Regions from separate parts of the Homo sapiens genome. Here region 1 is linked to region 2. Evidence: fine-mapped expression QTL. A gene starts in region 2. The other region holds a variant in brackets. All regions are shown on one strand. Distances are from middle to middle.

Region 1 (5,389 bases), 68 kb before region 2:
ATTTTTTGAAACTAGATGTCTTCCCCAGAAATAAGGTATCCTTCCAGCTTCACATGGTCCAGTACATAGCCATCGTCCTAACATTATGATTCACTGAGCTACTTTTTTTTAGCATCATTAGACGTGTGTGTTCCTTATTAGTATATTATAAGAATTTGTGGGTTATCTAAAGGTTTTGGCTCCTAGGAGATGAGGAAGTCAGTCTGCTTTATGAGCCCTCCTCTTTGGACCCTCTTTCTGTTTTGTCATTTGCAGCACATTGTTGAGCCTTCTTTCTACTTGGTCATTTTGTGTGACCATCAGAGGTTAAATGTGGGTCCGCTGGTTATTATACAAGACCAGAATATTGATCAGCCCTTCCTGTTCTTGATAGAGTTCCTTCTATTTCTGTGTTAGTTCAGCTCACTCCCAATTATTCTGTCCATTCTTCTTTTCTACTTACCCTGAACATATATATTATATACACACATATTTATAAACTAATATAGCAGCAAAATTTGTGCATATAATTCATATATGCATATGTATGTACATTGGTATACATATAGGCATATATACATCCCTTACCTCATGAAATAATGACAAACATAAATCCTGTTTTCATTCTTCTTTTGTATTATAAGTTTCCTTTTTTTTACTATTTCTTTTAGCTTTTCTCCTTTGACTTTGATTTTGAACTCAATCTTTCATAGATCAAATCATTCCAATTACCTAATACTATTTTTATTTTATACCTAACACTAATTTTATTTTTATTTAATTATAATGTAACAATAATAATTATTTAATATTTGAATTATCACAACTTTTCCATGAGAATTCCCTTAAGTCAGATCCTTTGATTTTTTAATCATTGTCACTATATTTTTCACATTATCCTCATTTTCTGGTACCTGCAGGATGTTCCCAACCCATTCTGAGTGTTTTCCTTTCGCTTACCAATTCTGAGTTTCCCCTCCCCACCACCTCCTCAGCCATCAGCCTTGCTGGCACAGGCTCTCCGTGATCACACCTGGGGCCCTAGGCAGTCCCTCTCTGCAGCTGTCTGTTTAGACACCTCCAGGGCAGGATATGGAATGGCTTTGCCTGCAATTCCAGCAGATCCACCAACGTCACTTTCACTGGCACCGTGAAAGCCTGCATCTTTTGCAAGACTTATATCAATTTGCAGCATGTAGCACTATACTGTTCAACATTTCCAACAGCAGACTATCTGGGGAAAAATTAATGAACAAAGCCTTGGCTTTATGTGGGGATGGACCCAGCCAGGAGCACTCCTGGAGTGGGGACTAATTTTTATAAGTTGTCAGATTACTAGTAAACACTTAATGTTATGGTGATTTTTGCTTTCCTAAACAATCTGGCATCTTCAGGAAGTCACACAATGAATGCTGGGTTAACAAAGATCTATTATACTAAATAAATCTAGTGCGCTAAATTTCAAGACTTTTAACCTAACCCAGCACTTAAAATCTAAGATTAATAATCAAGTAGAGTGGGCATTGGGAAGGCGTGAGCCACATTCCTGGGATCTTCTTTCTGAGACTGGGTATTGCCCAGGCTGTGAAAATAGGCAGACTCATGACCTGGGGCTTTCCTGTTCACACCTCAGCTCTTCCTGCTGGTGCTCAGCCTTTACTGGAGAAGGTAACTCGGTCTTTTCATCTTTTGAAGAACATGAGCACCCAGTAAGATGTCAGCAATACACATTATCAGGTTCTTTTTGCCTTCTGGTATCGGACCAGACCTGATGTGAGCTATTATACAGAGACCTTAGTGTAAGGACATCTCCCTTGGTAGTAAGCGCTGGGCTTTGATGATCTGAAGAAAAACTGAGCTGCGTCCCAGTTCTAGAGTTCCTAGAGAGAGCACACTCCCTCTCTGGAGATTCTATTTTTCCTGTAACTCATGGCAAAGTGGTCCCCTGTGGATTTTTTCTTTGCCAAGCTTCTCCCAACTCCACATCCCATTGGTTTTGCCCTAATTGTTATTTATTTAAGATAAAAGAAAATGTAATCCTTATGCACCATATTCCATAAATTTAACTAATAAAAATGTTGTTTTGTAAGAGCCTTTTGAAGTCCAAGTAAACTTTGGAATCATTTTTATGAGACTTTAAAAATCTTTCTTCTTAGGGGCAGGAAGTTATATTTTGCCAAGAATAAATGAACTCAAATAGCAAAGGGATTGGGCTTGACATGAGGTGCCAAACCCACAGTGTTTCAGTGGCTTCTGAGCTGGGCCAAGTGCGTTTTCCCAGTCCTGAGAGTCAGGACTGGTATCTAAAGTTTCAGACTAACATGTTATTACTTATAAATAATTATTTTAGTATGCCAGTTGTTCTTAATGTAAAACGTTTGGCTCCATTTTTGAACCAACTTGATTCTATAGGCAAAGAAGAACCAGATTATTGATTTCTCAAGTCATCCCTTTGTTAGTGTTTGCTGGAGTTACCTGGAAAAAACCTGCATTTAATTCCCTCTTTGCCATTTCCTTGAATGTTCTTACCTTCTTCATTCATA[G/T]TAATTTAAGATAATGTAATTTTTTTCCATGCCCACATTCTAAAACATTTTTAGGAGTGTTTCCAAAAAGAGAAGTGATGATAAAACAATATAATTAATGTTGGAAGCCATGAAAAATTCATAGACACTTCAAAGAGAGGATCAAGTTGTGTCATATGAGGGCTTATCATTCCCAAAGAAGCTTTTATGAAAGATGAATATGAAGCTGGGCGTGGTGGCTCACGCTTGTAATCCCAGCACTTTGGGAGGCTGAGGCGAGCGGATCACAAGGTCAGGAGATCGAGACCATCCTGGCTAACATGGTGAAATACTGTCTCTACTAAAAATACAAAAAATTAGCTGGGCATGGTGGCGGGTGCCTGTAGTCCCTGCTACTCAGGAAGCTGAGGTAGGAGAATCCCTTGAGCCAAGATTGTGCCACTGCACTCCAGCCTGGTTGACAGAGCAAGACTCCATCTCAAAAAACAAAACAAACTAAACTAAAAACAAACACACAAAAAAAGATGAGTATGAAAATTAATTAATAGCAAGTTCAGTTGTCATTTTAAGACAAGTTATTGATTTAAAAACAAAAATATTTCACCCGCCACCCTCTTCTCCACTTGCCGGCTCTTCGCCCATCAACAGAAGGTTTTCCAATTGTATCTTCTCGTTCACTGTCTCTTCCTGCTACCTCTGAACTTCTGTCACACATTCTATTTCAGTCTTGCTTATGGCTGCTGTTATCATCACCATTATTTTGTGCTACCACTTCCCAGGTTCTCCGTTACTCCAGATCTTTCTCTCAAAAACTCAGGCCTGATGGCCTCTGTTTTTCTTGAGTTCACTTCCTCTGTCAGTCCAGGATATCCTGTCTTCTTTCTTATCCCCTAATTCCAGCCCTACACACTCCCCAGGCACAGCCTTCCTGTGACCCTTGTCCCAGCCAGGCAGGCACCAGATCATTAACTTTAGATTTTCTGACCACTCCTCAAGGAAAGATGGAAGATCTTTTCCTTGGCTCCAGCTAGGGATGTGAACAGACACCTTCCCCACCCCCTGCAGCCCTCTCACTAATAGGTAGTCAGGATGGCAGCTTGCACCTAGGCATCTGGTGAATTCAATTCACTTCTCTCAAGTAATCACTCTGCAAGGGCCCACTGTGTGCCAGGCACTGGGCCATGTGCTTGGTAGGCAAAGATGAATCAACTAGGGGCTGATTATTATCACAGGATGCAATGCAAAGCAGCCTCCTGGAAGAGGCAGTGGTGAATTCTGCTGTGAGGGGTTGGCTGGGAAGGCTTTCAGACGCAGCAATGCTTGTACTGGATTTGCATGAGAAGGAGAAGAGAAGACAAGAGGAGACCATTCCAAGAAGCGGTAGCCACTTCTGTAAAGGCGTGTAGTAGTACACAATGGGGGTGTGGTTGAGGAAATACAAGTAATTATGTTTTAAAAGAATGACAGTGACAAAGGGGAGGCATAGTGACAGCCACCCAAAGGTTTAAGGGAGTGATGTGATTTGATTCCTCTGGCGAGAAGGTGGTGGTTGCACTGGGGAGAAGGGTGTGGGGAGGACTGGAATAAGGCTGACCAGAGAGGACACTGTCATAGGCAAAGGAGGTCACAGGCTAGAGAGTGACAGTAGAGAGGGGAGGAGGGGCAGATTCAGTGTAATGAGGGGTGCATGACCCACCTGGTACCTTGCAGTGAGGTTAGGGTGAGGCAAGCTCCTGCGGAATTAGAAAATCTCAGGCCATAGTTTCATTCAGGCCTGGAGAAGGTTGTAACATCTTAATCCTCAACTAATTCCCGCTTTGCCAGAACGCTATAACCTATTTATAAAAGTACCCTTGTCAAGGATACTTTTGACCTTGTTCTATGAGAAATACACACATGCATCCATATATATGCATACAGAGTATGTGTAAGATATATATATAAATATAAATATATATAATATTTATAAAACATATGGATTACGTATGCCAGGGTTCTCCAGAGAAACAAAGCCAAAAGGATGTGTGTGTGAGTGTGTGTGTTGTGTATGTGTGTGGAGAGAAAGAGAGTGTGTGTAAGAAATATTTATTATAAGGAATTGGCTCATGCCGTTATGAATATTGGCATTTTCAAAATCTGCTGTAGAATTCAGGCCTTCAACTGATTAAATAAGACTCGGCCACATTATGGAGGTTAATCTGCTTCATTCAAAGTTTATTTAAAAAAAAAAACCTTTGCAGCTACATTTAGACTAATGTTTGACCAAACAAATGGGCACTGTGGCCTAACCAGGTTGATACAAAATCACAGACACTTTGCTTTACCTTCTTCCCATGTTCCCCCACAAAAAGGTGAATTCTGGCTTTGTGTTTGTAATTTTGTACTTATCTGCAACTTTAGACTAATTCTCAGAGTCTGAAAGAATAAAGATGTTTTCTAAGAATAAAAGCATTATTTGTATATTTGCTTCTAACCCTATATTAAATATCTAAACTGCATTAATTCATTAAATGCATCTTTTTACTCATACCCTTTTCTTTAAGTATTTCTTATGTGCTATCCCATTAACAATGGATACAGTAAGAATTATCCCTGTTTTGCTGGTGATGATCTGTCCAAGGTCCCTGGCTGGTGCACACTTTGCTGTCAAACGTTCTTGTTCTACCTCACAGCAGCTTTTGCTGATTCCAGCGTAAAGTTGCTTCTGTTTGTTCTCAACAGTTGTCCATCTCGCTGATGACTTATGAGGTATTTATTTTGCCTTGCATCTTTTGGAAACTTCTGAAATAGTCCTTATTTGTCAGTTTGCCAGTCCCTTGCCTACGGAGTAAATTTTAATGAATTTACTTGGGGAATTTAATGATGCCTTTATTTTTAAATTTTTTAAT
Region 2 (5,389 bases):
AACGTGTAGATTTCCATAGACTCCCTGATATTCACAGGATGTGTAATACTGAAGAAATGAGGTACGGTTACACACACACAGGCACACACAAAAGACTCAAGCAGAGCAGAGTCACGAGCAGTGGACAGTTGAGTATGGGACTGACTCAAACGAAACTGATAAAGTGAAAGTGTGTGAAGGCTATGCCTGGTGAGATCGGCCCATGGTTACACCAGATACAATAATAGGACACAGGCGAAGCTCCCTTCTGCCTCATGTTGCACTGAGAGTCCAAGAAAGTTTGGCAAGTAGACCCTGAAGTCCTGTCCAGATAATCCAAAATCATCACCCATGGAGCTTAATTCTGAATTTCCGCCCCAGACGAAACTCCGATTAAATTCAATGAGTGTTTCTCATTTTAGAAAGTTGTGCATGTGCATGCCATATTCTTTTCTTAGATAAAAACATACCCACAGCTCCTTCCATACAAAACGAAACCAAACACATTTAGAACACATGTAAGCCATTTCTCTATGGGAAAGGCCATTTGTGGTTAACACAGAAAGTATTTATGGTTTCACTGTTAATTGTGGTTTCTTTGTATTAGCCAAAAAAGGTAGCGTTTTTCATGTTAGAAACAGTATGAAAGCAATAGCCTTTCTAAAAAATATCCGCATTTTCTGGGGCATAAGGAAGTAACTGAATTTATGATATCTTCTAAACACCAAAGGAGTATATGCAACATAAAATTGTGTTTTCAATTTGAATAAAAGTTTATTCAAAATTATCTTAATTGTACTTTTGTACATTTCCACAAGATAAGACCATATAATCAACATTGTATATTTAAGGCATTTGATTTTTTATTTGTATTTGTTATCTAGGAATAATAACATTTATTTCTGAATCAATGCTATTCTTGTAAATTATTTCCTTTCTTCTGAAAATTGTTAATTTTACAACGTGCATGTTTATAAACGTGGATTCATTTACCTAAATCAGTTGGCTGACCTGCCTAATCCCTTCCCTCTGTCTTCCTCTTTCTCTCTTCCTTCTTTCTTCTCCCCTACTCTCCTCTCCCCTCCCCTCTCCTCCCCTTCCCCTTCATTCCTTCCAAAATGCAATACTGCATTTTGGCAAGGATTCTATAATGAGAGTGAGTGCATTCAAGAGGTTAATTACATGTAAAAACAGTCAGTTTCATTAATTCGAATGTACTATACATTTTTGGGGCCTATATGTTAATATTTTTTAACAGACATTTCCACAAGTGCTGCATTTTAACATCTGAATGCATCATGTATATATTATTAGAAGAGGGAAAGAAGAGACAATTGTGATTATTAGGTCAATAACCAGAACACTTAGGAAGATTAATATAGCAAGCAGTTTTTTGTAAGTACATTGGCTTTTATTACCTACAGGAAAGAATATATTTTCTAATTTCATTATTATGCAATTTAAAAAATTTTAGAAGAAGCAATATATAAATATTTGATTATATCTTATTAAATTCCATAAGAAAAAGAAGCCATCAAAACATGACCCTAATTGTCTCTTTCTGAGTGTGAAAAACATTCTTTATGAAAATGCTTGGAAGTGTAATTTATCAATTTAATCACATACATTTATGTATATCTCCTGAGTGTATGTGAAATTGAGTCTAAATGAACATTTTATGATGTTAAACGCATTTTTCCAAAGATCTACATTTATTCAAAGATCATGTAAAAGGCTGTTAATTTGGATAAATACTATTCTGTCCATTGCTAAGTATTTATAAAATTCTGAGTTTAACTTAAAGACATCAAACATATTGGTACATTTAAATTGCACCAGTATTCGTTTCTAAAAATCTTTAATAAAAAATGTAAAGGTTTTGAATTATATTTTGTCTCCTTTCTCTTACAAATGGAAAATTAAACTGGAATATATTGTTATGTATGAAATTTATTAACTATGATGAGGTTATATACTATATAACTTTCTGCCTCTCAAATATTATTGTAATATATTTTATATAGTGTGTAATATTGAATCTTAGTGTAGTAATATATTTTGACATTTATAGATTTATATATTTTTAAATCTATTCATAAACATAGGATATGTTTTTCATGTCTTTTTGTGATTTTTAGTTTGAAAAACATAAACATTTTAAGCGATAACATTCATAGAAGGCAAATACTTCTCTGTGGAGTCTTTACAAAAAGGAATAAAACCTCAAACTAGAATTCATTTAACTTCATTTTAATAGATATGTTACGTTTTATTTTTGTTGCCGACATCTGAAGTAAATAATTTCTGAATCCAGGTAGTTGTTTTTGCACAGCAGAATAAAATATCTTTTTTACTATTTTACTATTTTCATTTGTATTCAAATATTGATATGAAGTAACCAAAGAACAAAACAGACTTTACTAATACATTCTTCAGTTGCGGGCAATCGGTGGTGAGAGTCAAAAAGAAGAAAAGTCCAAACAAAGGTTTTTCATTTCTTGCTGTTTACAAATATGTAAAAACAAGAATTCATAGTGTCCATATATTTCCTAGCCTTTAGTGTCACATTTTGTTCAGCAAAGGTTTCTTACCTTTTTTCATTGATGCCTTATTGAGAATCCTGAAATACTGCTGCTCAGTTCTTTCCTCTTCATCTGCTTGCATTGTGCATATCAGTCTGTAGGGGGCACTCCTCAGCTACCACAAAGACTTGTGATAAGTCCTTTCTGTGGTCTGAAATGTATTTAATACTCATTATTTTATCAAGGCACTTAGTTTAAAGAGAATTCATAGTTTATCTTTAAAGCATATATAGCCATAATTGAGGAAAAAAACCCTCAGTTTCAAGATGGGCATTTGGATTTCCGAGGATGTTAATAAAAATTTACAAAACTGCATTGAACTTTGGTAAATTAGTACTTTTCAGAGCTTCCTTCTTTCTATTCTTTTCTTGGAGCTCAGGGTGGATTTTATAATACCCAGACTTTTATTACTATACCTCGAGTCTTGTTGTCTCTTTGCCTTGAGGGCTCCCAGAGAGCAGAATGTAGAGTGATCATGATTTACATGTGGGAAGAGGAACCACAGAGTTTTTACATAGAATTACATGCCCTACACTGGAGCTTATAAACAGCTTATCTTTAACGGGAGTGAAATATTGAATTTAAGATTGTGTGTGGCCTTCTCTACTCCCTTTCCTCCCTTTCTCCTCCCATCTCCAACAGAATCTACTTGGGTGGCAATTCTAAGAACCCCTTCCATAATAATGACGTGGTCCTCTCACATGGCTGTATCTTCCAGGTTCACATCAGCTGTGGGTGCAGCTGCTTTGGCTTATTATAGATTTCCATAGTTACCTCTCAGAGAGACCAGCAGCATTAACTGGTCCAACACGTTGGGGGTTGACTTTCCACATTCAGCCTCTTACTTGCCTCCGTGCCAGTGCTTCTGCGTCCTGCTGTTACCATGGTTGTACTCTACTCACCCTCTTTGAGACCAGCCCCTCCTCTTGATCAGAGAGCCCCTCACTCCTCTGGAGCCTGACACTGGATGCCACTTCAGCAGTTGCTTCGTCCTTTTCCTTATCATCAAACGTTCCCTTTCTCTGCTGTAATTTCTCCTATCTCTCTTCACCCCACTTCTCCTGCAGCCTCTCCATTTCTCAATTCATTTTATTTTTTATTTAATTTTATTTTTTTTGAGACTGGCTCTCACTATGTTGTCTGGGTTGGTCTTGAACTCCTGGGCTCAAGGGATCCTCCCACCTCAGTCTCCCGAGTAGCTGGGACTACAGGCATGCCCCACCGCACCTGGCCATTTTTCAGTCCATTTTAGAGCAGAACCTCTCAAAGGGCTGTCTGTATCTGATGTCCTAGGCTTTCCACCCCTCCTTCTTTCCTTTCCTGCTCCACTGATGCTCTGTTCCTAAAATCAAGGACCTCCATGATGCTAAACCTAATGGTCAGTCCTCAGCCCTCATCTTTTACTTTATTTTTTTTATTGCTGCCTCCTATACAGTGACTCAGCCCTCATCTTGATTGACATAGAAGCAGCATTTTATTTTTCCCCATAGGGGATCACTCACTCCTCTTTAAATGATTTCTTTCACATGGCTCTGGTTGTCTTCCTCCCTCACCAGCAGCTCTTATTCCACTCCTTTGCTAGCTGTGTCTCATCTTCTTTTAAAAAGCTTAAAAAATATATATTTTTTTAAATGAAGATGGGATCTTGCTGTGTTGCCTAGGCTGGTCTGGAACTCCTGGACTCAAGCAATCCTCCCAGCTTGGCCTCCCAAGGTATTGGGATTACAGGTGTGAGCCACCACACCCAGCCTGTATCTCATCTTCTTGAACCCAGGGAAGCTCAGGTGTCTCTCTCTACACTCGCTTTCTAGGTTAATCTCATCTCTCAGGCTTTACATACTGTCTATATTCTGAAAAATCCCAATTTTTTCTTTCCAGCCAGGACTACTTCCCTCAACTCCTGGCATGTGTATTTAACTTCTTTTTCACTGGACATTGCTGTTTGGATGTCCAACGGGCTTCTCAAACTGATCTCCATCCTAATCTCACAAAACAGGCCACTTCTTAACAGTCCTTCCTGTCTTAGAAAAGGGAATTTTCTCAGGATAAAACCTCAGTTTTAAGACAGTAATCCAAGCCGCTGTCATCATTTCCTGTGTCCATTTCTCCTCACTCCAATACACCGACATCAAATCCATAGAGGTTAAATATCAGTTCATTTCAGTCCCTTTCTCAAAACCCACCAGTGGCTCTCTACGGAACAGAGTGACGGCCACAGTGCTGTTAATGACACCAGGGCTCTACTGGATCTGACCTCTGAGATGCCTCTTGGCTTCTTCCCTTACTCTGCTCCCTGGCTCACTTCACGCCAGCCACATGTCCCACTTTGCACTTGCTTGATAATCCAGGAAAATCCCTGCCTCCAAGGGATTTGTTATTTTCTCTTCCTAGAGTGCTCCTTTCCCTGATACCTTCATGACTCACTTCCTCACTTGCATAATATCTTTCCCCAAAGTCATCTATGTACTGCGTAGGTGTCTCTGACCACTCTTAAAAATAGCAGCCCTCAGCTGGGCGCGGTGGCTCACACCTGTAATCCCAGTACTTTGGGAGGCCGAGGCAGGTGGATTGCCTGAGGTCAGGAGTTCAAGACCAGCCTGGCTAACATGGTGAAACCCCGTCTCTACTAAAAATACAAAAAATAGCTGGGTATGGTGGTGCACGCCTGTAGTCCCAGCTACTCGGGAGGCTAAGGCAGGAGAATTGCTTGAACCCAGGAGGCAGAGGTTGCAGTGAGCCAAGATTGTGCCACTGCATTCCAGCCTGGGTGACAGAGCAAGACTCTGTATTAAAAAAAAAAAAAACAAAAAAAGCAACCCTCCCTAGTG

Direction of the effects. Positions count from the first base shown, and alleles are read on the strand shown. Sizes are in standard deviations (SD) of each study's normalised expression.
For the expression in cerebral cortex of the gene that starts at base 3,192 in region 2, allele G in region 1 goes with a lower level than allele T (moderate effect, 0.58 SD a copy in GTEx).

Evidence for each region. PIP is the estimated chance that this variant, and not a neighbour inherited with it, causes the effect. A credible set is the group of variants that fine-mapping cannot tell apart.
Region 1: its variant is the best candidate, but not a certain one, in a credible set for the expression of LINC01923 in cerebral cortex (GTEx, PIP 0.58).

Annotation. Positions count from the first base shown.
Region 1 is chr2:198,303,457-198,308,845 of GRCh38, forward strand. The region is part of intron 2 of LINC01923 (long intergenic non-protein coding RNA 1923); the gene reads right to left. Among named protein-coding and RNA genes, the nearest start is that of LINC01923, 69 kb to the right of the region's middle. The variant G/T (reference allele first, on the strand shown) is at 2,523.
Region 2 is chr2:198,371,906-198,377,294 of GRCh38, forward strand. LINC01923 (long intergenic non-protein coding RNA 1923) reads right to left here and starts at 3,192. Exons shown (of 3, transcript NR_110267.1): 1 at 2,978-3,192; 2 at 2,571-2,712.